Regions from separate parts of the Homo sapiens genome. Here regions 2, 3, 4 and 5 are each linked to region 1. Evidence: fine-mapped QTL for protein levels in blood plasma. A gene starts in region 1. Each other region holds a variant in brackets. All regions are shown on one strand. Distances are between the middles of the regions.

The links. PIP is the posterior inclusion probability: the model's chance that the variant is causal. Protein levels are from antibody-based Olink assays in UK Biobank. Linkage for the fine-mapping came from a reference panel and not from the study's own genotypes, which makes the PIPs less certain.
Region 2: its variant is fine-mapped to the plasma level of the CDH17 protein (UK Biobank, PIP above 0.99). The variant lies in the coding sequence of CDH17. If it changes the protein, the assay may bind it differently, which can mimic a change of level.
Region 3: its variant is fine-mapped to the plasma level of the CDH17 protein (UK Biobank, PIP above 0.99).
Region 4: its variant is fine-mapped to the plasma level of the CDH17 protein (UK Biobank, PIP 0.98).
Region 5: its variant is fine-mapped to the plasma level of the CDH17 protein (UK Biobank, PIP above 0.99).

What each region holds. Positions count from the first base shown.
Region 1 is chr8:94,204,997-94,211,558 of GRCh38, forward strand. CDH17 (cadherin 17) reads right to left here and starts at 3,559. Exons shown (of 18, transcript NM_004063.4): 1 at 3,487-3,559. RefSeq lists an enhancer at 1,086-2,285.
Region 2 is chr8:94,127,176-94,133,737 of GRCh38, forward strand. It overlaps CDH17 (cadherin 17), which reads right to left. Exons shown (of 18, transcript NM_004063.4): 16 at 3,701-3,817; 17 at 3,451-3,564; 18 at 1-1,165. The coding sequence ends at 1,065. Among named protein-coding and RNA genes, the nearest start is that of CDH17, 78 kb to the right of the region's middle. The variant T/G (reference allele first, on the strand shown) is at 3,769.
Region 3 is chr8:94,158,004-94,164,565 of GRCh38, forward strand. CDH17 (cadherin 17) reads right to left here. Exons shown (of 18, transcript NM_004063.4): 11 at 4,083-4,159; 12 at 1,968-2,159. All of the region lies in intron 1 of LOC105375647 (a long non-coding RNA gene), which reads left to right. Among named protein-coding and RNA genes, the nearest start is that of CDH17, 47 kb to the right of the region's middle. The variant G/A (reference allele first, on the strand shown) is at 2,785.
Region 4 is chr8:94,188,282-94,194,843 of GRCh38, forward strand. CDH17 (cadherin 17) reads right to left here. Exons shown (of 18, transcript NM_004063.4): 2 at 6,354-6,424; 3 at 906-1,004. The coding sequence starts at 6,404. Among named protein-coding and RNA genes, the nearest start is that of CDH17, 17 kb to the right of the region's middle. The variant G/C (reference allele first, on the strand shown) is at 3,558.
Region 5 is chr8:94,243,498-94,250,059 of GRCh38, forward strand. It overlaps GEM (GTP binding protein overexpressed in skeletal muscle), which reads right to left. Exons shown (of 5, transcript NM_005261.4): 5 at 5,756-6,562. Among named protein-coding and RNA genes, the nearest start is that of GEM, 16 kb to the right of the region's middle. The variant T/C (reference allele first, on the strand shown) is at 3,626.

The DNA.
Region 1 (6,562 bases):
TGACGATGACCTTGTGCAGAAGGATATAAATAACTCCCACATGCTTAGTGTTCCAATAATGGAACACTAGGCATAAATGGGTTTTAAGCAGGTAGCCAGGAAGAATTTCAGCATTGACTTCCCTCACGTGTGCAGCTATATACCCGCAAAAACCCTAGAAGGTGGCAGGGGGAGACCCTTTCTCCCCCAGATCTAGCAGAACAATATCACAAGCATCTTCCCTGGACTAAAGAGGAGGACTGGAATCACTATTTCTCATAAAGGGTGGCTTGACTTTTTTTTGACAAAGTGTTTCTTTATGTATTACACAACATTTCTTTATGTAATATAAAGTTTACGGATGAGCATTTTGTCAAGATAATAAAGCAACACATCCTGGCCTTAGAAATTCAGTAGGAAGTAAATCTAAATTAGGTTCCATCCCATAGGATTTAGACACTGAAGGATCGAAAGAAAGAAAGAAAAGAGAAGAGAAGAGAAAGAAAAATACTCTAATACCAGTTCATTTGCAAAGTGACCCAAGGCAGGAATTTTAATGCCAAGAATGTGCAGTCATGCTTAAGTATGGCAGGTTCACTTTCCAATTTCTGTAATTAAATCGTAACTGACAACTGGGATGGGTAGGAGAGGAAGGGAAAATAAATTTAATTCTGCTTAATAAAAGGTGCCAGACCACGATGAAATCTCATTCATGAATTGTTTTTTTTTTTAATCATTGGAATTGTTTTAAAAAATAGCAAATGCTCAACAAATGCAAGCTAAGTTAAACACTTTGGACAACTTACTTGAACAACACAATCATATAATGTGGGTCCTGTTGTTATCCCACAGAGCAGGAAACTGATGCTTAGAGCGCTTGAGGAAGTGGTGTGAATGCAGGGGCCAAGCACCAAGCCACTCTGCTAGATGGCCTCTTGGTGAGGAAGAGAACTCATCTTTAGCTTAGATGTTAAGGGAACAAATCTACCATTTCCATTCTCCTCATCCGTCACTTAAGAACAAGTCCTAATATTTTTAAGTAATAAGTATATGGTCAAAAATGAATAACTCAGAAATATCATGAATGAGAGAATTCCATGTCAGTCTTACAGAATATTTGAAGAGAAATTTTCTTTGTACCACATACACAAAAATCAAGCATAGCTTAGCTTGTTACGTATTGCTTAAGTGAAAAAAAAAAATCAACTTTAGTGTAGTTAATACCTCAGCCACTAGGGGAATATCTGCTTTTATTAAGTTAATATTTCTTGTACCTAAGTAAACATTCCTTCTTCTTCCTGTCTGTTCTTACAAGTAACAAATAAGTAGATAGGTATTCCCTTAAAATTCCGTGTGTCTTTCTTTGGATAATCAACGAGCAGTTACAGAACAACTAGCCCCATTCTAAATCTGATACCAGAGATTTCTGAATCAATGCAATTTTATGTCAAATCTATACATCTCTACCCATGTGAACCAGCTTCTGTTCAAGCACTGTTTGTCGGCCTCCAGAGCAAGGAGCATGACAATGCCCAGCTTTCCTCCTCAGAGCTGTTGCTGTTAATGTGGAAGAAAAATGAGGGACACATCCTTCTAGACATTTTTTTTGACAATGGAACGAGAAGTAGAGTTTCTGCCAGGATATATTTTGCACATCATCCAGATTTTTTTTTTTTTTTTTTTTGAGACAGGTTCTCACTCTGTCACCCAGGCTGGAATGCAGTGGCACAATCATGACTCACTGCAGCCTCAACCTCCTGGGCTTAAGGAATCCTCTCACCTCAGCCTCCCAAGTCGCTAGGACTATAGGTAAGTGCCATCATGCCTGGCTAATTTTTAATTTTCTTGTACAGTCTGGATCTCCCTATGTTCAGACCTTCCAGGCTGGTCTTGAACTCCAGCACAAGCGGTTCTCCCTCCTCAGCTTCTCAAAGTACTGGAATTACAGGAATGACCCACCACACCCAGCCATATTTTGCCTTTTGTATGAGAAAGGAGGAGGTACCGGAAATGTAACCTTCACCTTGAACAGTGATGACTTTTTTCAGGGGTCATCTGGGTGAGTTTCAAAGGATGCCCCACCTGCACCTCACCCAAAGACTTATATGGGAACCATGAGAGGGGCTTTAAAATGCTATATATATAGCAAAACCAATAGTTTTATTATTCTCATATTTTTGAATCCTACTTCCTGAACATAGAATTAGTTCCTCTCTTGCATAATGGTAGATGCTATTTTTATGGCATCACTGATTTTTTTCTTATTTTTCTAAAGAATGAAACAAAAATTTCTCAATTCATCCTGAGTCACCTACTTGAACTTTCTCATGGAACAGAGCGCTAACATTCACTGGATGTGTACCATGCACCAAGCAACATAGTAAGCTCTTTACCTACTTATCTAATTTACTTCTCACAACTACCTAGTTAGGCAAGTCTCTAGTGGCAGCTCTCTGTTCTGTGCCCACAGGTTGGAAAATGATGAAACTGGCCTAACCCATTTGGCCAACCCTGAAGACTCATATGGCCCCGTAACTCACTAGAAACCCTCTCTCAGTAAAGGACTCGCTTTGTTTCCTGGTGAGAGCTGAATAGCATTCATCTTCCTTTCATCTAAACATGTGTTTTTTCTTCTTCTTTCAAATAATGCCTCATTTGCTATTTAAGCTTTTGAAGAAAAATAAAGACAAGAAAATATTAGAGAAGGCACTGTCCTTCCAATCTGCTGCTTGGCATCCCCTACCACAGAGGGCATCTGTCCCTATAAAGTCACCTGTCATAAAAGACCAAGACAGAGGCAAATATCGGACCATTGAAGATACCAATAAGCTGTGTGTGGCTTAACATAAAAATAACCACACATTAGCAGGTGGTAACTCCACCACCAAGGCCAAAAGCAGCCCAGGAAGCTGATTAACACGCACATCAGCCTCTTCTCTCACTTGTGAAGGCAGGTCTGTCTGTCTTCAATTCTTATTCTAGTACTTTTACAAAAAGACTTTTCTTCTTCTCTGCATGTTCCCTCCCTTGCTGTGTCCTAGACAATTCTAAGAATCCCAAATTGAATCTCATTCTCTGAGAAGTAGATAGAATGACATGCTTTTTGAGAATGTGATTCCAACCCCAATTTCTAGAATACAAGAGCCCTAGAGCATCTTAAGACCAGGGACTTTTATATACTCATCACAAAGAATGGATGTGATACTTGTTTAAACATCAGAGAACTCAATTTCCCCTTTAATTCCACTGCCAAGCTTGATTTCACTGCAGCCACTTCATCAAATGAATTTATAAAATATGGACCAATGAAAAGAAACTACAAAAAAAAATTGTGCTCCATAAGCAAAACTTGTCATGCCAGCAACAAATTTCCCTTCTCCGCATCTGCATAGCCCACCTCAAGGAACAAATTTGTCAAGCAACTTTTTAAGTGCCCTCCCCCTCCATCTACTTTGTCCTTCTGGAATAAATACGTTACTGACACAGTTAAGACATGTCAGCCCTTACCTTTCTGTAAGTCACAAAATGGTGGTTAAAAGTCCTTTTCTTCCATTCAGTGGTCGAGACTCTTGCTACGACTGGAGTATCTCCCCCGGGAACACTCCCTCTTCCCTGCTTTGCCTCCCAGCCTCTCCCTTCAGCTTCAGTCAAACATTAACCATTAACATTTTTTATTGCTCTTCGAGAGCCACTGGGTATCATAAAAAGTGTCATTACTTTTACTCCAGGAAAGAAATGACTTTGTATCAAAAGAAGTTTAACTTACATCTAATCCATCTCAAAACAGGTTGCTACATTTTTCAATGTAGATGAGTCAATGAAAAGACAAGAAGTTAGAGTGGAAAAGTTTTTGTGTATCCAACTATCTCTAGAGTGTGAGGTTCATGACATCAAAGACTTTCCATATTTTGTACCCCCAACACTTAGCACAGGAGACTTGATCAGCAAATATTTATGTAGATTCCATCTCAAACACAAAAGACGGAGCAGGGGCGCCATGTCTGAGCAATGACACAGTTCATTGATAACCAGCCACATGAGATATCATAAATGACTCAGAAGACATGAGGAAAGACACAATATGGCTGTGCCTGCTTTTGAAATCCAAGGGTCCCTTCCAAAGTCTGCAAGAAACAACCGATAGCAAATTTCCCCCAAACACAAACCAAGTCCTTTTTTCCCCCCCACAATTCAGGGAATGGATTTACCTAGGAACAACTTATTTTTCCCCAATCAAAATGAGGTTTTTGATTAACCAATAAAAGCCAATGCCCCCAGATTTCTCAAGTCAAGGCTTCTTTTAGACCAATTCCTGATTTCCACACTTTGGTCACTCTGGGAATCCACACTGAAGGTGAGCATCAATGTCATGTCTGTGTCTGGTGTGTTACACTTGGCCCTGTTTCTGTGGACCTTCTCATGTTCATTTCTTGGCTTCTCCTGAGCTGAGGTTGTGTTTTCCATTCCTCTCCAGGTGTGCATCTGACAGAGGGAAAGCAAGAGAGCCCAGCCCACTCTCTAGAAGGGCTCCCTCCTTTCCAGATTTCATGAGAAGGTTTCATGAGTGCTCTAAGCCACTGTGGGAATAGACCTCATTTATCCTGAGGACCCTGCAAGTGAAACCATCTAGTTGCATGCCAGCTGTTAACATCCTTGGTGGACTGGTGGGTTCAGCAAAGGCCCTTCTTGCTTTGTCCCACAGCCAGCATCACTCATTTAGAAGAATGAGGTTATTGAGGCTAAGCACTTCTCACATTCTTCACACCTCTGCCCTCCCATTAGCTGAATAAAGTGTGCTTGTTCTACAAAATCAAATCGCTTCCACTTGCCACATGTTTCAGTTCCTGGAATCAAGGGCAAGCATCTCATCACACAGCATTGTTCATAAAGAAGTTTGGGTCTTCTTTGAAAATTTTAAAATAATAAAGTGCTTTTAAATTTATGAGTTTTTTTTTTTCAAAAATAAAGTGCATATGTATCATTTATAGTCATTGTTTTTCAGCAACAATAACAATGATCGTGACATGTTGGTATATCAATTAAAATTCTGTTTTCTCATTTAGCATGTCTGCAAAGTAGATTCCAGTTTATAGACAGAAAATGGGGACACAGAGAGGTTTTATTTCTTGTCTAAGTCACACAGCCTTTGACTACAGAATCGGGACTGCAACCCTGTTCTGATTCAAATCCCATCCTATTCACTACAGCTATAGACTCTGCCAGATTTTTTTCCTTCCAGCTTTATGCGAGTAAAAAAAAAAAAAAAAAAAAAAAAAAAAGTCCAAGGGCAGAAATCCCTGCATGAGCCCATTCCTGTTGGAAGATGGCCAAGTTCCGAAATGGGGTTCCTCTGTACATCACTTGCTATCTCTAGCCCCCAGCTTCCAGCTCAAAGAATTAGGTTAATTAAACACTGAAAATGCCTAAACCACCCATCAGAGAAATTAACAGGTGATTATTGCATTTCTGAATTACAGAAGCTATTTCTGTACTGTGGGATACCAGGTTAACAAGATTCTGAGAGCTGTTCATATATTCCTTACATGGTTTAGACATCCTTCCAGATTAAATCCAAATGTTAAGAATGTGCACGTTTCAGGTAGCCACCACTGCATTTTAGGAACTCATTTTCATGAAAAGTGAGACATTGCTGGTTCAATAGACTTGCTAATAATAGGAATAAGGAAAATGTAATTGATAAATATTACTGATTTAATTTTCCAAAGCAAAGGAGGTATGATTTATAGGATGAAAACAACTGAAGGCCAGGCGCAGTGGCTCACACCTGTAATCCCAGCACTTTGGGAGGCTGAGGCAGGCAGATTACCTGAGGTCAGGAGTTTGAGACCAGCCTGTCCAACATGGTGAAACCTCATCTCTACTAAAAATGCAAAAATTAGCCAGGTGTGGTGGCAGGTGCCTGTAATCCCAGCTACTCAGGAGGCTGACTCAGGAGAATCATTTGAACCTGGGAGGTGGAGGTTGCATTGAGCCGAGATTGCACCACTGCACTCCAGCCTAGCCGACAGAGCAAGACTGCATCTCAAAAAAAAAAAAAAAAAAGAAAACAAAACTGAACAAGTGAAAGGACTTGGGCTAATGCTTTCAACTCACAGCTTCATGGTGGTGAAAACATTTCAACGCTTTTGTCTATAATGTTTTAAGCATTCCTCCAATATTATCCCTAGAAAATACAAATGTCCATAAATAAGTAATTAATTTATGGACATTTGTAAGAAAGTCTAGATAGCCTCCCAGACAAAAAAGTTATGAAAACTTGGAATTATTCCTAAAAGTCAAAGCATGTTACATTTCTAATATTTATATTCTTTTTTATTTTATTTTATTTATTTTTTGAGATGGAGTCTTGATGTCCCCAAGGCTGGAGTGCAATGGCACAATCTCAGCTCACTGCAACCTCCGCCTCCCAGTTTCAAGTGATTCTCCTGCCTCAGCCTCCCATGTAGCTGGGATTACAGGTGCCCACCACCACACCCGGCTAATTTTTTATATTTTTAGTAGAGACGGGGTTTAACCATGTTGGCCAGTCTGGTCTTGAGCTCCTGACCTCAGGTGATCTGCC
Region 2 (6,562 bases), 78 kb before region 1:
TGACTACAACCAGTGTTTATTCTTGATTTGTCACCACTCTTTTCATGTCTTGTTTTCTTCCACATGTTAAATATATAATAACCAAAACTTTACTAACATACGAATGAAGAAAACATGCGCAGCATGTATGCATGGCAGGTAGTGAGGAAATCTGGCCAGCTGACTGGTTCCTTTACCAAGGTTTGCAGAGTAGGTTGTGTTTGAACACCTTCTGTGGGTCTGTGTCATTTCCAAGTTGAAGAATTTCAGCCAAAGAGCAACATGTCACATTGATTAAAGATGGTTAATGACACAGAAACATTTCTGTTAATACTAAGGGAAAAGGCTGTTCTTTTATTTATTTATTTTTCCTGAGTCCTCACGTTTTTCTTCTCTGACAAATGTTTGAAATTCAGTGAAATACCAAAGGAGTCAAGGATGAAGGGGACACAGGATGGAATCAGAAAAAACATAAATGGAATCCAGGCAGTTCTATGAGACAACACTGATATATCTCCTTGATAAAGAAAAAATGTACAGAATATTTAATGAGTCTGTCTTGCCCCAAAAGGGAAAAACACAAGTAGCTAAGCCATTTGCAGAGAGGAAAAATGTCATGGAAAAATGAAAAATCTCTCTAATGTCTATAGCACATGAAATATCTAAGTAGGTGGGTGCAGTGGTTCATGCCTGTATTGGGAGACCAAGGCAGGCAGATCACTTGACGTCAGGAGTTCAAGACCAGCCTGGCCAAATGGCGAAACCCCGTCTCTATTAAAAATACAAAAATTAGCTGGGCATGGTGGTGGGTGCCTGTAAACCCAGCTACTTAGGAAGCTGAGGCAGGAGAATCATGTGAACCCAGGAGGCGGAGGTTGCAGTGAGCTGGGATCACACCACTGTACTCCAGCCTGGGCGACAGAGCAAGACTCCACCTCAAAAAAGAAATATTTAGCAAATATTAAAGGACAAGAGGGAATATCTGTTTAAAAAATTATAATGCACGTTAGATGAAAAGTAATAGGATGAGATGGTTGTTGCTGAAATAGCACTTGCTATATAAATTCAAACATTCCTTTTCAAATTCAGCTTCTCAGAGGTTTGACTTCAGATGCTTGAGCACTTTCAACATTATCTTTGCCTTTATCCTTCTTTATGCGGATAAACACAACTGCTAAAATTATACCTAAAAGAAAAAACCCAGGGTCAAATAAATGGGACCTTTTAAAATGTACTGTCACATTCAGTTATAAAGTAGTATTGTGGTAGGAAAAAAATGACTCAACTTCATTTTTGTATGTGATTCAACAAAATTTCACTGTCCTAGTGAATAAGGGACTCTAGTCGTTGGCCTTCTTGGAGAAATGAGCTTATCATTTATCCTGTTGTATGTATGTATCAAGTCCCAAATCATAGCTGACTTGGTGGCTCTCACTGGATCTCGCTGTAAGAATATAGGACCTAATGTTCCACACTATGGAGTGTATATGTCCCACACTATAGAGTGTATAAGCACCTGACAAAGTTCCTGAACTTTATATATACTTAATATTGATTCTATTCTTCCCCTTTCCTAGAGAAAACAATCCAATTAGCACAACTAGAAAGCTGTTCTCTGACCTGTTCACCTCCCTGAAGCTGATTTTCATCGTGTCCATACCAACTATCGCATTTCCTTGGGCGCCTTCCTCCTGGATCCTGCCTATGTTGTTGTGGGACCCTGGGTAGACTACTTAACCTTCTTGGTTTCTCCCACCTGATACATCAAAATTACACTGTGCAGCTCAGCACTGATTGTGTACTGTCAGAGTCCACTATGAAGAAGGAGTTGTTTTAAGGAAATTAACCTGCTAGTAAGTTTATAGGAGGAATCATGGCAGAAAAGTCTGGATGCTCAGAAACTTATAATTCCAACCCTATCTTGAAAATAAGGTCATGAAACTGTAAAATCCTATTACTTCTATTTCTGGATGTCCCCAAACTCAAGCAGTCTTTAACTTGTGGTAAGATTATGGAATTAAATTGATACGTTAAGAAAATTGCTATCTGATTTGTAAATTCAAAAATCCTTTCAAGGTGGGAGGGCAAATAGAATAAGAAAAGGCACAGAGGCAGAAGGGACCTATGTAAGTGAGTGGGACCTCAAAAAGACAGCTCAATTACCATGAAAAGTGTGCAGTAGATAGTGGTTCTCAGGGAGGAAAGATGATCACCATGCACACATTAGGATGGGAAGTGGCCATGACATGAAGGCCCTCCCATGCCATAGGGAGTCCAGACTGAAGGGTATAAAGAAGTGAGACCCCCTTTAGATGCATGAATCAGAGTCCAGTGTGACACACTGGATCATGGGAGAAAAGATCAGATGCTGAGAGAACAATCAATAATACTTAGAATAATCCTAGTCCTTCTTTTAAAAGAAAAAGGATATGAAACCATAAACCCCTTCACTCAGGTACACATGAAATAATGAAGTATCTATTCCTAATGTTTAACTTGTGGTGGGGACAACAGTTGAAAGAGGGCAATTACTATATAGGTTGAGTATCCTTAATCTGAAAATCTCAAATCTGAAACTTTTGGGGTACCAACTTGATGTCACAAGCATAAAATTCTACACCTGACCTCATGTGACAGGTTGCAGGCAAAACTTTGTTTCATACACAATATTATTTAAAATATTGTATGAAATACCTTCAGACTACGTGTATAAAATGTTTATGAATCACGTGAATTTTGTGTTGAGACTTGGGTCTCATCCCCAAGATATCTCATCGTGTATTTGCAAATGTTCAAAAATCTGGAAAAAACCCAAAATCTGAAACACTTCTGCTCTCAAGCATTTTGGGTAAGGAAACACTTGGAATAGGCACTGAGTTGTTTGCAAAAAAGAAAAAGACAGCTAGATCAGGGGACTGTACTGTCTAGCCAAGCAAGGGGCTATGGCAGAGGCTGTGGTCATGATGCAATGGGTTATTCTGGGTAGTAAAGAATCAGGGTTCTATGCATAGGGAAGTTCTGCACTACACATTTCAGATATCTCAGCATCGCCACTGGAAGGCTAACTTCTGCCTGTAACAACAATGGCAGGTGAGACCATAAACTCTGGTGTAGGATCTGTGTATGTCACTCTTTCCCCATCAAGCACAGTGCCTGACACATGGCACAGCTACTGCATTTCTTCCCTCTTTATCACAAAAGCTTTGTAACTAGGCATAATATATGACAATTGATGACCATAAAGCCCCTTATATTTCTAAACTAATAAGGCAATAGAGACAGAGGGTAGTACTAAAGCTGTAACTCCAATCAAGAAAGTCTGATGTAATTTGCTGGTGATCTACCTTCTGGGCTATTGCCTGAGTTGCCATTTGAGCAGCCACCAGACCAGTCCAGGAAGACAGGCCCTGAGATGAGCTCACATTTCTGAGGCCCAGGATAAGACTCTTTGAATTAAGAAATTACACTCACCAATCACCAGAAGGGTGGTCAGCAGTATACCAACTGCCATGCCCACAGTGGGTATCCCAGTCTGGTGACCTGCTGGCCGGAAACAACTTCCTTCCACACAACTGCAGAATGTAACTGAAAAGCAGGACAGTATTTGGTAGGATAAATTCTCAAGTGAATAGTTGCAGAATCCCATATCAAAGACAAGAATCTCCTCAAACGGCCCATGGTGACAGATACTAGCCTGAGTTGCCTATAGCAGAATATCTACCTGGTAAAGAAACAATGCCTTCCAAGGGTGGCCGACCCCCATCATTGATGCGGATCAAGACGACATAC[T/G]CCCTCTCCTCAAACTCTGTGTGCCTGGTAGACAGTCGGGCATGAGTACCTGCCAGGACAGGAAAAAAAAATGAAAATACAACTTCAGACCCTGGATTAGCAGGAATAAAGCTCATTTTGTATCACATACTAAGGTTGACTGGAACATGGCTAGATATGAGTTAAACTGCCCAAAGTATCATCCACATCATTCCACATGTATCTTCCCATAAGGTAAGAAAGGGCTAAAGCATCCTTTAAGTTCTTAATTCATGATTTCTCTGTAGAAATTTATACTAAATATAGTCAATTATCATTTGTAGCACTTATGCTCTATAAAGTTGCCCCAAACACTGAATTAATGAATGCTGAACCATTGCTCCTAGAGGAAAGACAGGGTTAGGTTTCTGTGAGCTTCTAGTCATATTTTCCCCAACTGATCAATACATAACCTTGCTTTTTGTGTGTTGCTGTTCAAAGATATCTTATTTAACATATATTGTTCATTCTAACATTTAACTCACATCTAACAGCACTAGAACTTCCTGAACAAAGCTTATCAAACACACATATTTAGGTTGGTGGAAAATAATTGCAGTTTTGGACATTACTTTTAATTTGTGTCCCAAACCACAATTTTTCCCTGTAAGGCACACATCACAGCCTTCCTGTGCTTAGGAATTCTAGATAGCACTTCAGCACTATAGTTCAAAGCCATTTTTTTTTTTATCATGGGTCATCTTTTAGGTTTGACCCTGTGTGGTTTTTTTTAATACTTTGTGCACATGTACCCTAGAACTTAATGTGCAGGTTTGATACGTAGGTATACATGTGTCATGTTGATTTGCTGTACTCATCAACTCGTCATTTACATTAGGTATTTCTCCTAATGCTATCCTCCCCCAGACCCCCACCCCCTGACAGGCTCTGGTGTGTGATGTTCCCCGCCCTGTGACCAAGTGTTCTCATTGTTCAATTCCCACCTATGAGTGAGAACATGCAGTGTTTGGTGTTATGTCCTTGTGATAGTTTGCTGAGAATGATGGTTTCCAGCTTCATCCATGTCCCTGCAAAGGACATGGACTCATCCTTTTTTATGGCTGCATAATATTCCATGGTGTATATGTGCCACATTTTCTTAATCCAGTCTATCATTGATGGACATTTTGGTTGGTTCCAAGTCTTTGCTCTTGTGAATAGTGCCACAATAAACATACGTGTGCACGTGTCTTTATAGTAGCATGGTTTATAATCCTTTGGGTATATACCCAGTAATGGAATTGCTGGGTCAAATGGTCTTTCAGGTTCTGTATCCTTGAGGAATCACCACACTGTCTTCCACAATGGTTGAACTAATTTACACTCCCACCAACAGTGTAAAAGTGTTCCTATTTCTCCACATCCTCTCCTGCAACTGTTGTTTCCTGACTTTTTAATGATCACCCTTCTAACTGGTGTGAGATGGTATCTCATTGTGGTTTTGATTTGCATTTCTCTGATGACCAGTGATGATCATGTTGATGTGTCTGTTAGCTGCATAAATGTCTTTTGAGAAGTGTCTGTTCATATCTGTTGCCCACTTTTTGATGGGGTCGTTTTTTTCTTGTAAATTTGTTTGAGTTCTTTGTAGATTCTGGATATTAGCCCTTTGTCAGATGGGTAGATTGCAGAAATGTTCTTCCATTCTGTATGTTGCCTGTTCACTCTGATGGTAGTTTCTTTTGCTGTGCAGAAGCTCTTTAGTTTAATTAGATCCCATTTGTCAAGTTTGTCTTTTGTTGCCATTGCTTTTGGTGTTTTAGTCATGAAGTCCTTGCCCACGCCTGTCTTCTGAATGGTATTGCCTCGGTTTTCTTCTAGGGATTTTATGGTTTTAGGTCTAACATTTAAGTCTTTAATCCATCTTGAATTAATTTTTGTGTAAGGTGTAAGGAATGGATCCAGTTTCAGCTTTCTACATATGCCTAGCCAGTTTTCCCAGCACCATTTATTAAATAGGGAATCCTTTCCCCATTGCTTGTTTTTCTCCGGTTTGTCAAAGATCACATGATTGTACATGTGTGGTGTTATTTCTGAGGTCTCTGTTCTGTTCCATTGGTCTATATATCTGTTTTGGTACCAGTACCATGCTGTTTTGGTTACTGTAGCCTTGTAGTATAGTTTGAAGTCAGGTAGTGTGACACCTCCAGCATTGTTCTTTTTGCTTAGGATTGTCTTGGCAATGCGGGCTCTTTTTTGGTTCCATATGAACTTTACAGTTTTTTCTAATTCTGTGAAGAAGGTCATTGGTAGCTTGAAGGGGATGGCATTGAATCTATGAATTACCTTGGGCAGTATGGCCATTTTCACGACATTGATTCTTCCTGTCCACGAGCATGGAATGTTCTTCCATTTGTTTGTGTCCTCCGTTACTTCGTTGAGCAGTGGTTTATAGTTCTCCTTGAAGAGGTCCTTCACATCCCTTGTAAGTTGGATTCCTAGGTATTTTATTCTCTTTGCAGCAATTGTGAATGGGACTTCACTCATGTTTTGGCTCTCTTTGTTTTGGTGTATAGGAACGCTTGTAATTTTTGCACATTGATTTTGTACCCTGAGATTTTGCTGAAGTTGCTTATCAGCTTAAGGAGATTTTGGGCTGAGACAATAGGGTTTTCTAAATATACAATCATGTCATGTGCAAACAGGGACAATTTGACTTCCTCTTTTCCTAATTGAATACCCTTTATTTCTTTCTCTTGCCTGATTGCCCTGGCCAGAACTTCCAACACTGTGTTGAATAGGAGTGGTGAGAGAGGGCATCCTTGTCTTCTGCCGG
Region 3 (6,562 bases), 47 kb before region 1:
GTTCTGTTCTGCCAGTTATCACCTGCCTCTGGATGGTTGAACAAATCCACTTGCTCAAGGACAGTTATCACAGTGCCCAAGGGACAGAGAGCTGGGATGTCACAGGCCTAAAGCACAGGTTCGATGATCACTTATGTGTCTGCTTGTTCATAATTGTATATGGGACAGAATTCATTTATTCATTAAGTCAAGCAATATTTATTGAACCTCTAATATATGCCAGGAGACATAATAGACACTTGAAATAGAACCACATATAAAGTAAGGATGTGACAAAGAGTTTGGTCAGAGGCCTACTCTACTGTAGCATACCTCTCGTGTCAAGTTGTGAGGGAGGATACTTACAGCTCTCACCCACAGCTAATCATTGAGATAGGTGCCAACATCTCCCTAAAAGGGCCCATTAACCACAAATGGCCAAGTTAAACTGCTGTTCAAAAAAATATGACATACGGGCCTTGTTCATACTGGGATGGATGGGCCTCTATCTTCCCTTAGATTCCTAGAGAGCTCTGGTCCTGCAAAAGGATAAAAGGAAGCTGCCCCCGTCACCTGCAAAGGAACACACCAACCCACTGCAAGCTCTGAAAACTGCCCTTTCCTTTATCCTTTCTTTCTGTGGTATTCTCTCTCCATGCAGACTGCTGTGAGCACAAGGGGAGGTTGTCATGGTACCTTTTCCAAATGTCAGACTCACACACAAGGCTAAGGCTTTGAGCTGGTCCACAGCAACCTCTCTGCTGAAATGCAGCAGGGCCCTTGGTTCAAGCTGGAATGTTTGGTAACAGTAGGATCACAATTCCAAGGCTCTGTCCTAGGGCTTGCTTCAGCACTAGTGCTTTTTTCTCTGTGCTTCTGTCCATTTTCTGTGAAATTATTCTATTTTGTCTTCATTTTTAGCCTCTTTCAGTTTTCTTTTATTCTGGCTCAAAACTGTACTCCAGAGCTTTCCTTTGCAGCTTCCAGCACACTGCACTGCAAACCTTAAACAATTAGCCACCCTTGCAGATTCTCTCTGGCCCTTTTTAACAGCGAGGTTTCACTCTCTTTCCTAGGAAAGTATCTTAACTGTAAGTACATTGGACGGCATTGAGTGCTGCTTCCAATTGAGTCATCTGGTAAACCCATGACATGCTCTAAACACAGATGAGGCAGCCACAGAGAAAAGAGTCAAGATTCAGGTATACATGGCAGGGGACAGGAGTAGATTGAGGGAGGGTTGGGAGAATCCTGTACAAAGAGACAGGAACCAAGGTAATTAAGACTTTGACTCCAGATTATCCAGTCCTTACAGAGGGAGAGACAGAATGAGAGCCCGTGGGCTTAGCAATACAGTAAAAGGTGAAAGTAAAGCAGCGGAGAGGGGGATTAAAAAGACACTTGTCTATTAAACCTTGGAAGGAGACCCAGCAGTTGCATTATTCAAAAGGTATCTCTGCCTGGCACATTAGAATAAAGGGTTTACAGCCTAAAAGGCCCATGGGGTCATCCAACCCAACTCCTCACATTTGCAAAGGGGGAAGTGAAAGCGAGACCCTGAGTGCCACTCCCAGACCGTAAGAGTGTTGCGAGATTTAGCAAATAGCAAATAAAAACATAGAACACCAAGTTCGATTTGAAGTTCAGATAAATGACAAACAAGTTTTTAGTATAAGTGCATCCCAAATATTGCATAGAACACACTTATACTAAAAAATTGTTCATCCTGCATTTTATATATTTTATATGACGTTACCTCCCTGCAAAAGTTACTTGGCTAGCTAGCAACAGAGCCAGGTCTAGAATCCTGACTTCCCGTCTGTCAGGAAGACAGGAACGACTAAGAGGAATCCAGGAATCCAGGAACCCATCACCATGCCTGAGAGATGGCTGCTAATACATCACCTCTGCTTATAGGTCTTCACACTGTCATTAGTAAATTAACCCACAAACAAAGACAAATTCTATTAAATAAATGGGCTATTTACCTTTTTAATTATGACATATCCGGTGTTGGTATGGGGATCTGTGTCAACCCCCAGGCGTCCCTCACTGTCTCCCTTTATGATATGATACAGAATTTTAGAACTCCCAGTAAATGGCTCATCAGCATCAGTGGCCTGGATGGTTAAGATGGTGGACCCAATGTTTGTGTCTTCAGCAAGAGTCAGGTTTCCATACTAAGGAGAAAATGGAGAAGGAAACAATGAGAAGGTCTGCTGTCATCAAAGCCAAAGGACAAACTTATCTCTCTGGTTTCAGAATAGACACAAGTCATAGTTTGCATCAATCTTCATGGGGCATGTTTTTTCCTATTGATGAATATATTGCAGTTGATTTTAACATCAGTCATACTCATGAGCTGATATCCATTGTACCAAAGAACGCAATACCTCAGAGAGCTACTGGTAGGATTCTAAAACAAATTCCCCCTCCCATATCCAATTTGTTTAATAACTTAATTATTGTAGTAGTAATGATATAAATAGCCACCATGTATTGAGTATCTATCAGGTGGTAGGCACTTTATATACATTATTTAATTAATTCTTAAATCAACCAATGAATAGAGGTTGATTAAAAGCTTGAACTTTGGAGTTAAACAGCCTGAATATGAATTGTAGGCTTGCTTCTTATTAGTTGAGTGGCTTGAAGCAAGTTACTTCACTTCTTTAAGTGTCAGTTTCATCATCTGTCCAATGGAGACAATAGTAATAGAACCTACTTCATGTTTGCTGTGGGTGTTAAGGGAGACAATGCATGTAAAGCTCCTAAATTCTTGGCACATAGTAAGTGCTCAATAAA[G/A]AAAATCAACAAAACACCTTACGGAGTAGTTATGTTACCATCTCCACTTACGAGGAGCAAAGGCTTGGAGAAGTAAAACCCACCAAGGGTCACACAGCTAGTGGGTCAAAGGGATTGGGATTCAAAGCCATGTTTGTGCAACTCCAAAGCCTATGCTCTTGAACACTGGCCTAGACCATCTCCCACTCCACTGAAAATCCCCCAGATTATCTCTCTTGGCATCATGATCCTAAAGAAGGTTATAAGTAGGTCTCAGAAGAGAGGACCACAGCATTGAAACAAGCAGGTTCACTCTCTGTAGCCAGATTAGTATTTAAGCTCTGAGACCTCAAGTGCAGGATTCTTACCCTCAATCTAAAAAACACTGTCTCGATAAAAGGCGAGGAGGTCACAAAGTTAGGAAAGGATCAAAAGCCCAAGAGAATGGAGGCTGAGAAGAAATGGGTTATTTGATGCCTGCTGAACCTCAGTGCCTGTTATACAAGACATATCCACTCACACCTCTTCCCACCCCTAGCCCCCTCATAAATCAATTCCCTTCTTTGTTGCAGGCTTGTCCCTATTTTGATTTATGAACATCATCACAGGGCTCTGGGCTGCCTCATAACTGACTTCAAAAATAACATAACAGTCTAGTCAAATAGGCTTCTTGCTCCTTCAAAATAGAGACTTCCCTCCTTAGGGAAACAATGATAAAGTCATCACCAAGTCTGAACGCCCTATCGATGACAAGAAAACAGTAATTTGCATTTTTCTTGAGGTTCTAAATTGACTTTTTTCTTTCTGTCCAGTTCTAATTCTCTCAAATGTCTTGGGCACATTTTTCTTTGGCTTAAGTCAGAGATTAATTTTTTTCTTCTCCCTTTCTCTTACCCAATTATTACAAATTAAATCGCCAATATTCCAAATATTAAATTTTTGGCTAAAAATGCTTGAGACCTAGCAGTAAATCTATTTATTGTCCTAACACAAAAAAATATATAATGACAAACTGTAAGCCGCCATTCACCTTTTTTCAATTTGACAAAGATTGTGGTTGTTGTTTTTAAGCAGCCCTTGGAATAAATGAGCTATTGGCAGGAGTTTATAAATGAATGTTCCCAGACACCTGTAATAGTAAATGTTATTGTTCCCCAAAAAGTTCCACTGAAGATGGCATCTGGGTTATTTGTGCACTGACCAAGGTTACCTGTTAAGTCTGGCACTTTTCCTAGCTACTGTCTGTGTCTCTATCCCAGAAGAAAGGGTGAAGTAAAATGAATAAAGTAAAGAAAAAACAAATAATGACAACTACTCACATCTGATTTTTCAAAGATGGGGATCTGATCATTGATATCAATAACGTTGATTTGCACAAAACAAAGGGTCTTGAAATCTGAAAACCAAAGTCATATGTCATAGAAATTTTCACTGAAAACCATGCATTAATATCAGAAATCTGCAAGAAAATACTTGGCAAGTGAAGTGACAGCCATAGCCACAATTTTGCAATTGACATGCAATTTGTGCAGAGAGTGGGCTCTCTGTTTCCCACCTGTACCCAAGTGGTCACCAAGTGTGGGGCAGGGTGGCTAAAGACAGATCTAAGAGAGATTTTTCTAGGTTTTTCATTGCCGTCCACCTGCTGTCCTCCTAAGTAAAGTTAGGTAAGGTTTGTTCCTGAGCAGGATGGCTTCCTTTTGTGAAGCAGTCTTTTTCTGACTAGTGAAACTTATGTAATCTTCAAAGTCCAGAGCAAAACTGTCCTTCCAGAAAGCCTTCTGTGAGCATCCCAGTGGCTGTCTCTCCTTCTCTGAACACATCCAACCTACATCTGCTCTGACTACTATGATGGTGAGGTCCAAGGGCCTGCTCTCTTCTATCTAAATAAGGGAGGAACTACCACCATTGGCCTGTTCACAAGAGTCTGGCTACCCAGCCTGCAGGAAGCAAGGTGGGGACAGAGGTAGCTCCTGGAACCCTGGAGAAATCACCCAGGCTTTCAGGGATGGGTTTCACAATTCCAAGACCTAGGCACACAGCCACTTCAGCTAGATTCCAGATGTGTGTGGAGTGCAGGTGGGGACAGGATGCCTGGGGGAGAGAGAACAAGAGATAAAATGACAGGTTCTTTGTTGGGTTGCTGTTGTTCTAACCATGGTGCACTGCACTGTATAATGGTTAAGACTCTGGGCTTGGAATTCACTGTTTGGACTCTGGCTCTGCCACTTAGCATGTATGTGAGAGCTTGGGTGCCTCACTCAATTTATCTGTAAACTGTGAATAACAGAACAGATGTTTTCATCATAATACAGTTGTTAGCGGCCTCTATATAGCAGCAACTGTATTGTTTACCCGAGTTACTCATTCATCTTCATGATAACTTCATGTTGTAGGTGCTACTGTCATTCCCATTTAATTAACAGATGAGGAAGCCAGGGAATAGAGAAGTTCAGGTAACCTAACCAGGGTCACACAACTAACTAGTGATGGAGCCAGGATTCAAACCCAGAGGTTCCCTTTGCCCTCTGCAGCCACCATCCATTCCTCTGTCTGTGCTCTGTAGCCCAAGGGGCTGACCTTATGAACTGCATCAATGTACATCCTCACCCTGAGGGTAACAGTTGGGTTCTGCCACTGAGAGGCGTGGCAAGAGACTGGAGGGAGGACAGGAAGAGTGTAGCTGGGGGTGTCACGCCCCCGTTGCCAACAGCCCTCTTCTAGTGACAGGCACAGGCCTTGCTCCTTTGGGGGATGCTCCCCTCCCTGGCTCCTTCAGGTTTTAGGGCAGAAAATGCTGCTTACTGTGCTTCACACCTCCTGTTGGTTTCCCTTAACCCTGCCCACAACCTTTGCAAACAATCCCTTCTTTCAACTCTTTGAGGGGAGTCTCCACTTCCTGCTGGGATCCTGACTAATATTCCCAGGTAGTTTAACTCTAGAGCTGGTGCTCAATGCACTGGACATGATCCCAGGGACAGAATCTATTAACAATCCAATTACAACCAAGTGGATATTGATTGAAGTTAAGGCTGGTCCTCAGAACGTTTGTAGACAACAAGAATGGCTGAAGACTGGAGTGGTCCCAGACCCAGAACCCACTGGCTCACTGCTCTGCACACACCTCGTTTGACCAGCAGTGGGCCTTTCTGGGTAAAAGGCCTTCCCTGGTTTTATGTAAAACTGTGTTAATTATAGCCTAGTCTCTAGTTTTCTGTAGTGCACAGTTGAATGTTTAGTTATATCAACACACACATGTATTTTAATATATTTTATAATCTGGTCCATATTTTCTATAGACGTACTCATGCAAATAAACAATTTGTAATCTGATTCCCACTTTAAACTCTATCTTCAAATTGCTCCAGGTCCTCATGTATTTCCACATGGATTCCCACTCTCCCATAAGTCCTACATGATTTTGTAACTTGTCATATTCATCCTTCAAAGCCCAGCTCAGAAATACCTCTTCCAGAAAGCAGTACCTGTTCTCTCCCTCCACTGAGTCACTTATTTCCTTCATGGGCTACCTTGGGCAGTTCCTTGCAATTTACTGACTCACATGTCCGTCTCTTCTACCAGAATGAGTGCTCCTTGAGGACAGAATCATCTATGTCTCCCCAGTACCTTGCATGGTGCCTCAAATAGGTAAATGCAGAATAACTGCTGAAAGAATGGACTGTTGATAGTGTGAAATTGTTAGCTCGTCATGAATAGGGAAGGTTTATTATACTTACATCTGTTCTATCTCTTACAATAATGCTAGACAAATATTAGGGCCTTAATATTTGTCAAATTA
Region 4 (6,562 bases), 17 kb before region 1:
TATCATTTTTATTGTTTTTCCCAAATATATTTGATTCTTTGTTGGTTGAATTTGCTGATGCATGAACCCACAGATACAGAGGGCCGTCTGTAAATTTTTGGCAGTTAATGGAAGGCACTTGCCTTAGAAGGTAGGTAGCTCAGCAACCTCTGCCACTTCCCTGGTTCAGGGGACGGGGAGGGGTCACGGGCACCCCCAAGAAGGCTCATCAGCATCCTCCAATCACTTCAGGGCCAAGTGACTTTCTCAGGGGATGTCTGGTAAATACAGTAGTGTTTTCCCCTTCTCCACTACATTTCCAGGATTATTTCTGTGTCTTTAATAGCACTTAAGATGGGACTTAGGTCCCTTCCCTTATTCCCACCTGCAGACTGCCCCTCCATCTGATACTGTTCATGGTTATCTAACTAAATAAAACGTCCACCTCCCAGTGCACCTTGACAATGGCCCACATGGGGGCTCAGAGAAGGTGGTAAGGAAAAGGCAGTCCTCTGGCCAGAAAGCTCATTCTAGCACTGACTCCAGAGAAGCCGTATCTTCCAGTACTTGAAGCAGCAAGCTCATTGATCAGACAGCCTCGAGGGTGGATGGTCATTCCCCTCTCCAGAGACAGGTTCCCTTTCTACTCTAGGGGAGAGGCAGAGCCTGCAGCCACCAAGCTCCCTGCAGAGGGCTGGGAGCACTCGCCCCAGAGATGATTGAGGAAGTCCAAATAGAATGTCAGGTACAATTCTTATGATACTGAGGCCACTCATCTCTCTGTTTAACTTAGCTTCTGAAATCATTCTTGATAATGAGAATGCCATGCCTTTATTTTATTTCCTGCTATACAATAGATAAGGAAGTAAAAGTCCACCAAGAGAGCATACAAAATCAAGAGGACAGTGATCAAGGGTAGCTTTTACCTGGAATATAATTTGACTCGGTTCTTGGCCTTCATAAATAGAAAATGTCATGGGTTTCAGGGGTCCACTAAACTTCCCCTCTTGGCCATATCCAGTTGCCTGTTAAAAAAGAAAGAGAAAATTAGCATCTTGTATGAAGTGTCTGTGTCACTCATTGATTTTATTAGGGCTTCCAGCACCAATATACAAAACATAGGATTCTATCATGGCTGAAATCTGATCAAAACAGGAAAGAGTGTAATAGCTGTTGAAGCTCTACCACGTCAAAGTAGCTTGTTACAAACCTTTCCATTGCTTTTCTTAAACATCTGAGCAGAATGTGAGATGAGAAGAATCACTCTATGAGAAGAATGTTAACATCCCCATATTACAAATGAAGCTTAAAAAGGTTAACACAGCACACATGCTCAGGCCTAACTGAACTAAAGCCCATGGTCTTCCACAATCCCACACTGTCTTCTAAATTATATATGTTTTTACTCCAGCTTCATAAAACACCTCCCTCCACTCTTTTTATTTTATAAAGACATTTACAGCAGATTGCCAGCACTCTAGTGTTTTGAATTTATAAGGGGGAGAAAGAAAATATAGACGTATTTAGTACAAAGTTTGCTTGGCACAGTTACACGGTAAGTTTTAGCCAAATTTGAATCTGAATTTGAACTATAACTTTAAGCAAAGCTTACTATTTTAACATTTGATTAGCTCTTTACATTCATTTAGAAAAAAATAAAAGTACAAAATGTTTACTTTAAGCAGTAGCCCCACAATGGTTCCAAAATCCAAAGACCCTAAACTTGAAAGCTAAGCAGGCTCTGCAGACACCCAAGTCAAGACTGGAGTAGTAGTGAATGTGGCTGGGATGGTAAGAAGAGTGGCTCACACTTGCTAAGTTAGTACATGTGGAGCTCTGTCCTAAGCACATTTAATCCTGACAAAAACTCTGGCAGAAAGTTACTATTGTTACCCTTGTTTAACAGGTGATGACACTAAGACCCAAAGAGGTTAAATTATTTGCCCAGGTAGTGGCTGGAAGCAAGATTTGAACCTGCAACTCTGGAACCAGCCCTCTCAGCCTCTATGCACCAGCACCCACCAGAGCGGGTGAAACAGCCAAGGCAACCTGGAGGGAAAACTGGCAGGCTGCACTGAAGATGTGCATGAGAGTGTGACTCCCACCATTCCCAGTCTCAGAACATGGGGAGCATCACTGTAGCCCTCACCACAACAGCACCTCTGAAGGCAGATGGAGTGGGCACCCACGGGAAGGGACAGCCAGTCATGCAGCCACGTTGGGGCACCCTCTAGGACCAGGGATTTAGTGCCTCATCCCCACGCTGGCCTTCTCTCCTTCCTGGGCACGACTTTGGGTCTCCCATTTGTGGAAATCAGGGGTGAAAGAGATTGAAATCAGAAGCATGATGTGGCAAGCCAATGGTTTTTGGAGCTAGACAATAAAAATAAAAGAGTAAAAAGTCTTCTCACTCCCTGAACTGGGTATGCAGGACAGATGTCCAGGTGCCACTAGGTTGGGGGAAAACCATTTATTTTCCAGTTATTTAGGGAGAGCAAGCACACTCTTGCCATGGAAACTGCTCCCTGCTGGGAATACCCAAAAGCCATCAATATGCCAGTGATCAGAGAAAGGTCTTATGCTAGATCCCTCAGTCTGGGGAACCTTGACTAAGTTGGATGCTGGATGTCTGGCAAAAAAGCAATAATGAATGAGAACACAGGGGCTTTGAAGTTTGGTCTTCTGTTCTCAGATTTGTGGTAGGGCCTTAGATTTGCTGCCCCTGGGCCACTGCCAAGCCCTCTCCTTTTCTTCCTCCCACCACAGAGACCGGTAAACCAAGTTCCCTTTCCCAGGCTCACTTGCAGCTAGGAAGGTGGCCAAGTGGCCCAGTTCTGGTTCATGAAATGAGAGGGGAAGTCCACTGGCAGTGGTCAAGCTTCCATATTCCTGATTTTAAAAAAAAGGGTAGTTGTGGCTGCCATTGCCCTTTCCTGTGACTCTTGCTGAGACAATGTACCTTGTGTCTGCAGTTGGGGCAGCTGTGATGAACCCTGAGAGGACAAACCAGCTCAAAAAATGGTGTAGCAAAGAAAAGTAGCCCAAGTCTCTGCAACATCATGGAATTGCTAAACCTGCCCTGGATTGCCTACTTCAGACTTCTTGTTATCTGAGGAAAATAAACCCCTATTTATTTAAAATGCTCTAAAGTCAAATAAGTCAAATTTCCTGTTACTTGCAAGAAAATGCTTTTTTTTTTTTTTTTTTTGAGACAGAGTTTCACTTTTGTTGCCTAGGCTGGAGTGCAGTGGCACGATCTTGGCTCCCTGCAACATCTGCCTCCCAGGTTCAAGCGATTCGCCTGCCTCAGCCTCCTGAATAGCTGGCATTACAGGCACCCCCCCACCATGCCCGACTAATTTTTTATATTTTTAGTAGAAATGGGGTTTCACCATGTTGGACAGGCTGGTCTCGAACTCCTGACCTCAGGTGATCCACCCGCCTCAGCCTCCCAAAGTGCTGGGATTACAGGCATGAGCAACCATGCCCGGCCAAGAAAATGCATCCTTAACTCACAAAGTAATGTTGCCAGACTTCTAGCCCATCTCCTCCTTTCTAAGTTTATCTTCCTTTGGGAG[G/C]TCTTCATCCCTTTCACTCCTTTTCCACATCTTTTCCTGTTCCATCAGCTCCTCTAGAAGGCAGGGCATAAGAACTGGGTGTGCAGGACAGATGTCCAGGTACCACCATGGTTGCTTAAGTGAGGTCAGTGCTTTCTGTGGAGCTGCTGCTTATCAGCTTTGCACTCATGTCAGCAAGCAGTCTTTCAGTTAGTCACACCAGTGAAAACTACATTAGCCACACACAAACAAGGCTGCACTATTCCAACAAGGACAAGCTGGCTCACCCATCAGAAAATGAGAATCAAGTCTTGGTTCCAGGGTTCAAAGTTGCGTGCTTGTATTGGGGCAACAAATCTCTCTTCCTGCCAATAAACATGACTATTGGGGCTATAAAGATTTCAAAGTGCATGTGGACACTGTGAATCATCAAGCCGCTTTCCCCAGAAGTGGGAAAGATGGTATGGTGGAAATCTGTGAAAGGACAAGATGGCGGCTTTATGCAGGAGTTGGAGGGAATAGCGTTTTCCATCTTGCACAAAGAGGTGAAAGGAAGAGAATGGAACTGCCATCTTAAAGTCATTTTTAGCATCTTTTATGTGGCAGTAATGGGACTTGATCACCACAAGACATCATTTCTTCTGACCAATGCTATGAAGAAAGTATCTCCAGAGAAGTCCCACAGTAGAAGCAAAGCATTCAGAGACAGAGCTACCTCCAGACCAGACCCAGCGCCATTGGACCACCAAGCCCCAACTCTTAACCACATTGTTACTGCCTTCCAGGTCAAAGGACATGTGCAATTGCCAGGTTCACCTACTTGGTAGCTCCATCAAGAGCTCAGTGCAGTGATTATGTAGTATTTGTACCAAACTCATCTTCCTTCTGGAAGGCCCAGGCATAACTCCAAAACAGATGGCTCTGCCTTGGTTTCCTCCGATTCCCTGTTCAGTACCATTTCCCAAACCCTGGATCACTTATTTACTCTCTCTTTGGTGCCCCTGAAGTACATCAATGCCGTATTTGTGTTTCTAACCCTCTGATAAATCTATCTCTTGGAAAAGAACAGAAGATCTACTCGCAGTCTGGAGTAAATTAGTGCTTCTGTTGAATAAAGCCCTATGCAGAAGGCAAGATTCTTCAAGCAAACTTCCAGTCTTCATAGAAGAGGCCTTGGGAGGAGGTAGGAGAGAGAAGTGGCTCCCTCCCAACACCCCTGAAATCCCACTCCCTGACTTCACCCAGAGACAGCTGTGCTTGTGGCTTTCACCTGGGTAAGGCACTGCTGCCAGCAGTGGTTGGGCAGTATTTTCACTCTAGATAGAAATCCCACTGGGGTGAGAGTAGAGAGAAGGAAACCTTATTTTCACCTTTCATCCAGGAATAAAAATGCATGTTCCCTTCTCAGACAAGAAGCAAATAAGGCCTAATAATTAGATATTATTATTAAATAATTTAGCAGTGTGCTCAGTGCTGAATCTGCAAAGATGATAAAAGCACAGTCCATTTTTCATGGAGGTCAGAGTCCATGTGGACGTACACACTGAACACTTAAAATGCTGTAGTAATTATAGTAGCTAATGTTTATTGTGTGTTTAACCACCAGTCGCTGATCCAAGAGCTTTGTAAATGCAGTATCTCATTGAATTGCCACAAAATCCCATAAGACAAGTACTATTATTAGATCCACTTCACAGGGCAGAAAACTGAGGTTCAAAGCTTAGGTAACTCACCAAATTCTTATCACTGGTAGTGGAGGCACCGAGTTTGAATCCATGTCTGAATTTGTCACTACCCTGGGATAACATAGGTGACAAAGGGCATTTGAGGGGGTAGCATGAGGAGAGAGGTCAAGTGGGGATGTTTGATCCAGCCCTTCCACAATCCTGGAGACAGGCTTTGAGCCTGCAGGCTGTGAGGACTCAGGCTTCTCATAAAGTTTGAACTGCAGATTTCCCCCGGGAGGAAGGCTCTGATAGTTTTCAAGTTTCATTCAATTTCACACTGTCACTATGTGAGCTCTAGGGTATTTTTTGGGACTTGAAATTTGATGTATTATTTATGGATCCCAGAAGAAAGGAAGTAAGATTTGAGGTATGAGGATCTAGAAGCTTCCTTCTTTAAAAAAAAAAAAAAGAGAGCAAATGCTTCCTCTAAATCTTATAATCTCGTTTCATAATGCAGCAATTTTGGGGGCAACCTTTATGAACCTCAGCAGTCACGTAGATTTTAAAAAAAGGCACCTACTGTTTACCCCAAGGTCAAGGGTGAGGACTCCCCAGTTTCTATCCAGCTCCGAGCTCTAGAAGCCTGTCAGTCAATAGGGTTAACCCAACAAATGGTTAAAGACAACCAGAAAATTCCAAACCCTTGATGAGAAGAAAAGTATAGAGCAGAGCAAGGCTGAAAATAGAGAAAATGCTTTTCTTGATGTTTTGGTGGTAAGTTTTCATGCGCAAAGTTTAAAAAAGAAAGTCAAGATTAAGGGACACAGACTAATTCATGTATCAGTGCAATGTCATTTCAGATTCCCTGAGCTATAGATAGATTTGTTTTCAACATTACCCATAACTGGTGTTGGCTTTTAAGAGCTGGAAAGAAAATACATTCCCTAGTCGAGGGCAGACATGTGATTTGTAGCCATTTCATCGAAAATATCACAGTGGAACAAGCTATGTTTCCATTCTATACAACAACTTAATTTTGATAGGTCATCTTTTTTTAAGTAATAATAGCCATTCTTTCCCTGGTGTGGGGTAGAAAGATAGCAGAAAATATTCTAGTAAACAAATAGAGAAGAACACCCTCTTCTCTTACCAAATAAAGCATAAGAAGACACAGGGAGTGAAGATGGGCCTGAAGTATCATAGTTTTCTTTATTCAAATTCCTGTGAAGGAACCAGATAAAAAAATGGTTAGTTACCAGTCTGTTAAAATCATGTCTTTCCAATCAGTAAGAATCAATGGATGATATCCAGTTATAAATCTAGTAAAATGGTATCCCAAAAGGCCAGCCTCTCCTCTAT
Region 5 (6,562 bases), 39 kb after region 1:
GCTGAGGCAGGAGAATGGCATGAACCCGGGAGGAGCAGCTTGCAGTGAGCCAAGATGGCGTCACTGCCCTCCAGCCTAGGCGACAGAGACTCTGTCTCAAAAAAAAAAAATTGTGTATGTAATGTGTGTGTATATATATCTGAGTGCATACACACATGTATATGCATAATAGGTATGTATGTATATGCAAATAAAATTGCAAATACCTTTCAAGAAAGTGTTCTCCAAAGCTATCTCAAATTATCCACACGGTAATTTCTCCAAGTCAAGCAACTGCCTTGGGGCCTCTGAGTGATACTAGCAAGAGTACTTCTCAGTCCTCCTGCATTTTTACTTTTCCAGAAGCCTGACAGTAAGGGGGTAGTTTCTCTACTTCCAATGGAGTGGTTTAAAACGTTAATACAACAGAAGATACAAGAACATTTTTGTTTTATTTGAGCATGATCCCAGTAAAACTGAAATAACAATTACTTGTCCTGAGTTCCAGAAAGGGCATGCTCTAGGATACTCACCTTCCTTGGTAGATGCTGGAATAAATAAATAAGACTGACAGCATACCCATTTTTGGAATATATGTATTGAAGAGCGGAGCAAGACAAGAGTCTCATTGATATTTGTTTTACTAATTGTAGTACTCTACTTTTCCTTTAGCTGTGAGCCCCCTCTCTCCCACCTCTACCCTATTCCCCAACACGTGCACGCGCATGCACACACACACACACACACGCATATGTGCATGCACACACACACACGCATACGTGCATGCACACACACGCGCATACGTGCATGCACACACACACACACGCATACGTGCATGCATACACACGATCACCTGTATGTTCCTTCGCTAAAAACCTCATGTCCTTGGTTTGCATATGTTATTTTTTCCCTAGCTGCATGACAAGAAAAACAGGTGGATAATATTTACTTCCTCATTTCCCCAGGGTTGGACTGGATGATTTACTGATGGTTGGGTAGAGTCTCTTGTCGTTTTGTGGCTGTCTCCTATCCAGTCACACGACTGGACTCCATATCTTACTCCAGCGCAATCTTGTCACCAGGGCCTTGGCCAGGGCTTGTGTCTGGCCAGAACGGCTCCCTTTCTCTCCTGCTGTCATTTTGTGTTGCTCTCTGGCTATTGTGGGCATCAGGCCTCACCACTTTATGTGCACTTCTCACAGAAAACCTTGAATGCTGCTGGACACGTGTGCTAAGTCCAATAAGCACAGCAAATGCACATGCTGGGCTGAGGCTGCCCCTGACGAAGGACTTCCTTCCTTCTGCCTGAAATGCCTTACTCACTACTCCTTTGCTTGGCTGTTGCAGTAATGAATGTCTTCTTTTTTCTTTTTCTTTCTTTCTTTTTTTGAGACAGAATCTTGCTCTGTTGCCCAGGCTGGAGTGCAGTGGCACAATCTCAGCTCACTGCAACCTCCACCTCCTGGGTTCAAGCAATTCTCCTGATTCGGACGAGAGTCCCAGCGTTGCGGTGGCTTCCTCATTGGTCTCCCTGGGTGGGTCTCATGACTCGGTTCCTGCCAGGCTCAGCCCTTCTGGGCGATGTCCTGAAGCAGCACCACTCTAATCTGTCACACCCGTGTTTAGAAATATTCAAGCAGCTGCATTACCTTCCAAGCCAAGTCCAAATTTCTCAGTTTGGAACTCAATGTCTTCTACAATTGCTTCCCAACTTACCCTTACAGTTCACTCGCTCTCCACCTCTTGGGCAAACAATAAATTGATAAGTTAAGTGCTTTACATTTCATCCTAATGATATTCCTATAAGATGTGTGTTATTATCCTTGTTTTTCAGATGAAGAAATTGAGGCACATTAAGATTGACTTGCCCTAAGTAACCCAATGTATTTAGTTTCTTGGGGCTGCTGATATTACCATAAACTCGATGACTTAAAATAACAGAAATGTATCCTCTTCCAGTTCTAGAGTATAGAAATCCAAAAATCTTGATGTTGGCGGGGCCATGCATCCTCTGAAGGAGTTAGAGGAAGATCCTTCCTTGTCTCTTCAGCTCTGGTGCTTGTAAACATTCCTTGGCATTGCAACCCCAATCTCTGCATGGCCTTCTTCCCTCTGTGTCCCCTCTGTGTCAAAATCTCTCTTCTTTCTCTTATAAAGGCACCACATATTGGAATTAAGGTTCACCCTTAATCCAGGATGATTTCGTTCTGAGATCCTTAACTAGTACATCTGCACAGACCCTATTTCCCAATAAAGTCACATTCTGAGGTTCAAGTGGACACAAATTCTGGGGGAAGACTGTTTAACCCACTACACCCAACAAGTAAGAATTTGAAACTAAATCTCTCAGGCTATCAAGCATCATACATTAACACCTTCACTTAACGCCTCCCAGAAAGCTCCCGGCCAAATTGGACTTCTCTCATTTTTCTATATAGATTTCTCCCTTTCCTGCCTCTCTGTCATTGCTCATGCTATTTTCTTTACATAGGCCAGTTTTTCCCTTTTTCTTCCTTTCAACCAATCCTACCTGTGGAAATCTTGTGTAGTCTTCAAGATGAAGCTCAACATCACTTCCTCTAAGAAGACATCCATGGGCCAGTGCAGTGGCTCACGCCTGTAATTTCTGCACTTTGGGAGGCCAAGGCAGGCAGATCACTTGAGGCCAAGAGTTCGAGATCAGCCTGGCCAACACAGTGAAACCCCGTCTCTACCAAAAAATACAAAAATTAGCCGGGCGTGTTGGCACCTACCTGTAATCCCAACCACTCAGAGGCTGAGGCAGGAGAATTGCTTGAACCCAGGAGGTGGAGGTTGCAGTGAGCTGAGATCATGCCACTGCACTCCAGCCTGGGCAACAGAGCATGATTCTGTCTCAAAAAAAAAAAAAAAGAAAAAGAAAAAGAAAAAAAAAGACATTCATTACTGCAACGCCAAGCAAAGGATTTTTCTTCCACCAAAGCTAAACTGCCTTACAGCACATGTCTCCGATGGCCCATATTATCTTCAACCTCACGTTCTAGGTTTCTGTGCAGTTGTCTCCATTCCCTACTACATCTGCTTCCTGCCACTGTTAACTATATTACAAGCACCTTAAAGGCAAAACTGCCTCCTCCCACCATGTGTTCTCCACAGTACTTTTCTTAAGCCGGAGCTCCACAAATTTGCCCAAGTGAATTTAGAATCATCTGCATCTTTCTCTGCATTGAATAGTTCATGTATTTGTAAGCAAAAATGTAGGATGCTTAAAAACTCACCTTTCCCCAATGCTCCCACTTTTCCCAACTGGAATTTTTTAAATGGCCCAATTTTCTTTTCCACATCTAACTCAATCATCTTAACAAACGTTTTCATCATTTGAATTTTATCTAATGAATAAAAATTGAGTCCCTTCCTGGTATAATCCTCTCACAATTTCTTTATTTTCTTCCTATCACCAGTGCTACCTCCTTTGGCTTTTCAGGACAAATTTATTACTCTTGAGATCTCTGAGGATGAGGATAATATCTTAGCCATCATTATATTCCCAGCAGCTGTTAGCACCTGGGTGTCCAATAATATTTGAAGAATGCATGAATGTGTGAAGGTGTGGATGCTGCACTAGAGCAGGCAGAGTCAGTGCTGTCCCTGAGATGATGACATAACT[T/C]TTGCAGGTCTCACATAATCCTTACCACAACCCTATGAGGTGGGCATTCTTCCCATGTTACAGATGGGAAAACTGAGGCTATGAGATAGTAAAGAACTTGACTCTTGGCCACACATCCAGTAAGTGATGAAACCAGATTGAAACCCAGGTTTGTCTAACCCTGGAGCTAAAGCTCTTAACCAAAAATCCTCTTGGATTGGATTGCAGCCGGCATTATCCTGCCCTGCTTCAAGCCAAGGGAATGTGATCATGACAACCTTGAACATACCCTTAAACCTGGAGCCTTGGCATCTGTTGGCCATTTGGTTGGGAAGGTCTAAAAGAAGTGATGAGGAAGCTTGAGATTGTGAGAAAAATAGTGTAAAGAATATATATGCATTTTGTGTGTGTGTGTGTGTGTCTGTGTATTCTGTGTATAGGATGATACCTGGGGATGAAACAGGCTGTGTTTATAGGAAAGTTTTGGAGATAAGAATATACAAGTGACCAGGAGTCACAGGTGGACCTCAGTCCTAGCTCAGACACTTAGCATCTGAACAAACTTGGACAAGTCATTTATCCACCTGAACTGGTTTGCTGTGAGATGGCCTATTGACCTCACATAGGTGTTGGGAGGATCTATGAAGCTCAAGAAGAAAGTTCGTAAAATCCCAGTATATGCAGTGCGCTGCACTGATGAGTAGAAGGGTAAGGAGGAACAGAGTGGTGGTCCCTGATTCAAAGGAGTTTCCATTCAAATTAGGGGAAACAGACATGTAAAACTAACTCTAAATGATACGGAATGGAAAATGTGCAACCATGAAAAGGAAGATCTCTTGAGCTCTTTACTGTATGGCAGGTTAAAAGATGTTAATCTCACAAAGATGTTAACCTTACCAAGTGGGTATTATTAGCAATCCCATTTGGTAGATGAGAAAACTGATAGCTAGAAACCTTTAACCTTTACTCCAAAGCCATGTTGCTAAATTCCACAGCCAAAATTCACCCCAGATCTATGTAACCTGAATCTTTACTTGTATCATCTCCCCATGCTATTGCCTTGAGCAATTCTAAGATGCAAAGTGCAGAGAGATGGGAACCTTTGTGCTCAACTTGGAAAAAGGGGAGAAAGGGCAATGAAAACAGAGCAGACACCCTTTAAAACTGCGTGGCTTTAAGGCCAGGCGTGATAGCTTGTGGCTGTAATCCCAGCACTTTGGGAGGCCGAGGCAGGCGGATCACCTGAGGTCAAGAGTTTAAGACCAGTCTGGCCAATATGGTAAAACCCTGTCTCTACTAAAAATACAAAAATTAGCCTGACGTGGTGGTGCATGCTGTAGTCCCAGCTACTTGGGAGGCTGTGGCAGGAGAATCGCTTGAACCCAGAAGGCGGAGGTTGCAGTGAGCCGAGATCACGCCACTGCACTCCAGCCTGGGTGACACAGTGACTCCGTCTCAAGAAAACAACAACTGTGTAGCTTTAGGGAATGTCTGAAGTCCCATGATTGTCACCATCAGTGTGTGTCTCACTACAAACTCAAAAAGCTAGGGAGAAGAGAATGAAATAGGGTGCATATAGGGCCAGAGAAGATGTGAAGGGAGAACACCAGAAGTTCCATTCCAGCAAAAGGGCTGCATACGGCCGCTGGATAGATGCCAAGTGATTAATGTCAAGCCATATTAATGTCAGAGAGGAGAATTTGGTGAAAGCTTTGCCTGGCTAGATCTCAGGCTGGAAATCACTAGATTCCTTTATTTTATTTCCCCCTAATCCTTTATAACTTCCTCTAATGCCTTAGTCAAGCTTAAGACCATCAGCCTCCAGGGAGCAAAGTGAAGCCCATCTGTTCAGTCAGGCATTTGCCAGACCAAAGTAAAAGGTCAATCTGGCTTTTCCTATAACAGCATTGAGATGACCCCAAATACTTCCCAACGGTATCAGCCAAAAACAACTTTGCATTACCGTGAATCGTGATTTCAAAGCAGAGATGTCAGGGATATCCTTTAAAACGGATAATGACTGGGCTATTGCTAGTGAGAAAAAGAAAGAAAACAATAGGCATATGTCTCTTTGGAATGTGCTTGCTCTAAAGGCTGTATAAAAATAATCCTAATCATCTTGTTTGGGGAGGAAAATCAATCAAGAATGCCTTTTTTCAAATATTTTATTTCTTTTATTATAAGACATATAGGTAAAAACTTGCATATTTTGAAAAAGATAGAAAATGGTAATAAAATGGATATTTTTCTTATTAAGAAATATGTTCATAAATATGCTTTATCAAATGTTAAAATGGTTATTTTGCAAAATAATAATAAATAGAGCAGAGCTGTGACATACAAGGGTCAACCAAAGTACTGGAAGTTTTTATGCTATATGTTTTATAAAAATTCAGACTTCTGATTATACATTAAAAATTGACATTTTGCACTACAGGGTATCAATAATTCTGATTTTAAAAATATTTTTATGATGGCTCCATGAATTCAAAAATAATAAAACATAAAAGGTGGTTTGACTAAATAGAATCTGATTCAAATAATTTCCCCCTAAATAAGAAATTGTAAGATATAATTTTTGAGCCTATAAGGGACACATGTATCAGTTCCCAATTCTATATGTCTTGGTGGGCATTGAACAAAAATTGTTTGCTAAGCCTTTGTTTCCAGCAAGGTCCACATCATTTCTTTTCACAGTTTGATGGAGCAATAATAGTCACGATTCTGATGAGCCTAGTTCTACAATTCTAGCTCCATGGATCTTAGATTCGTAGAAAGTTTTCCCTCCTTTGAAGAAACTCATTGACAGCTTTCTTATATTTGTTTATGACTCATTGGCCTCAAAGTCACATATCAGAACACTGGGAAAAATTTTTAATGATGAAAAGTTCTTGTTCTAGGCATTCTTTGTAAGCTTTACTTCTCTACTATCCAAAATAGAAGAAACACATGTGAACA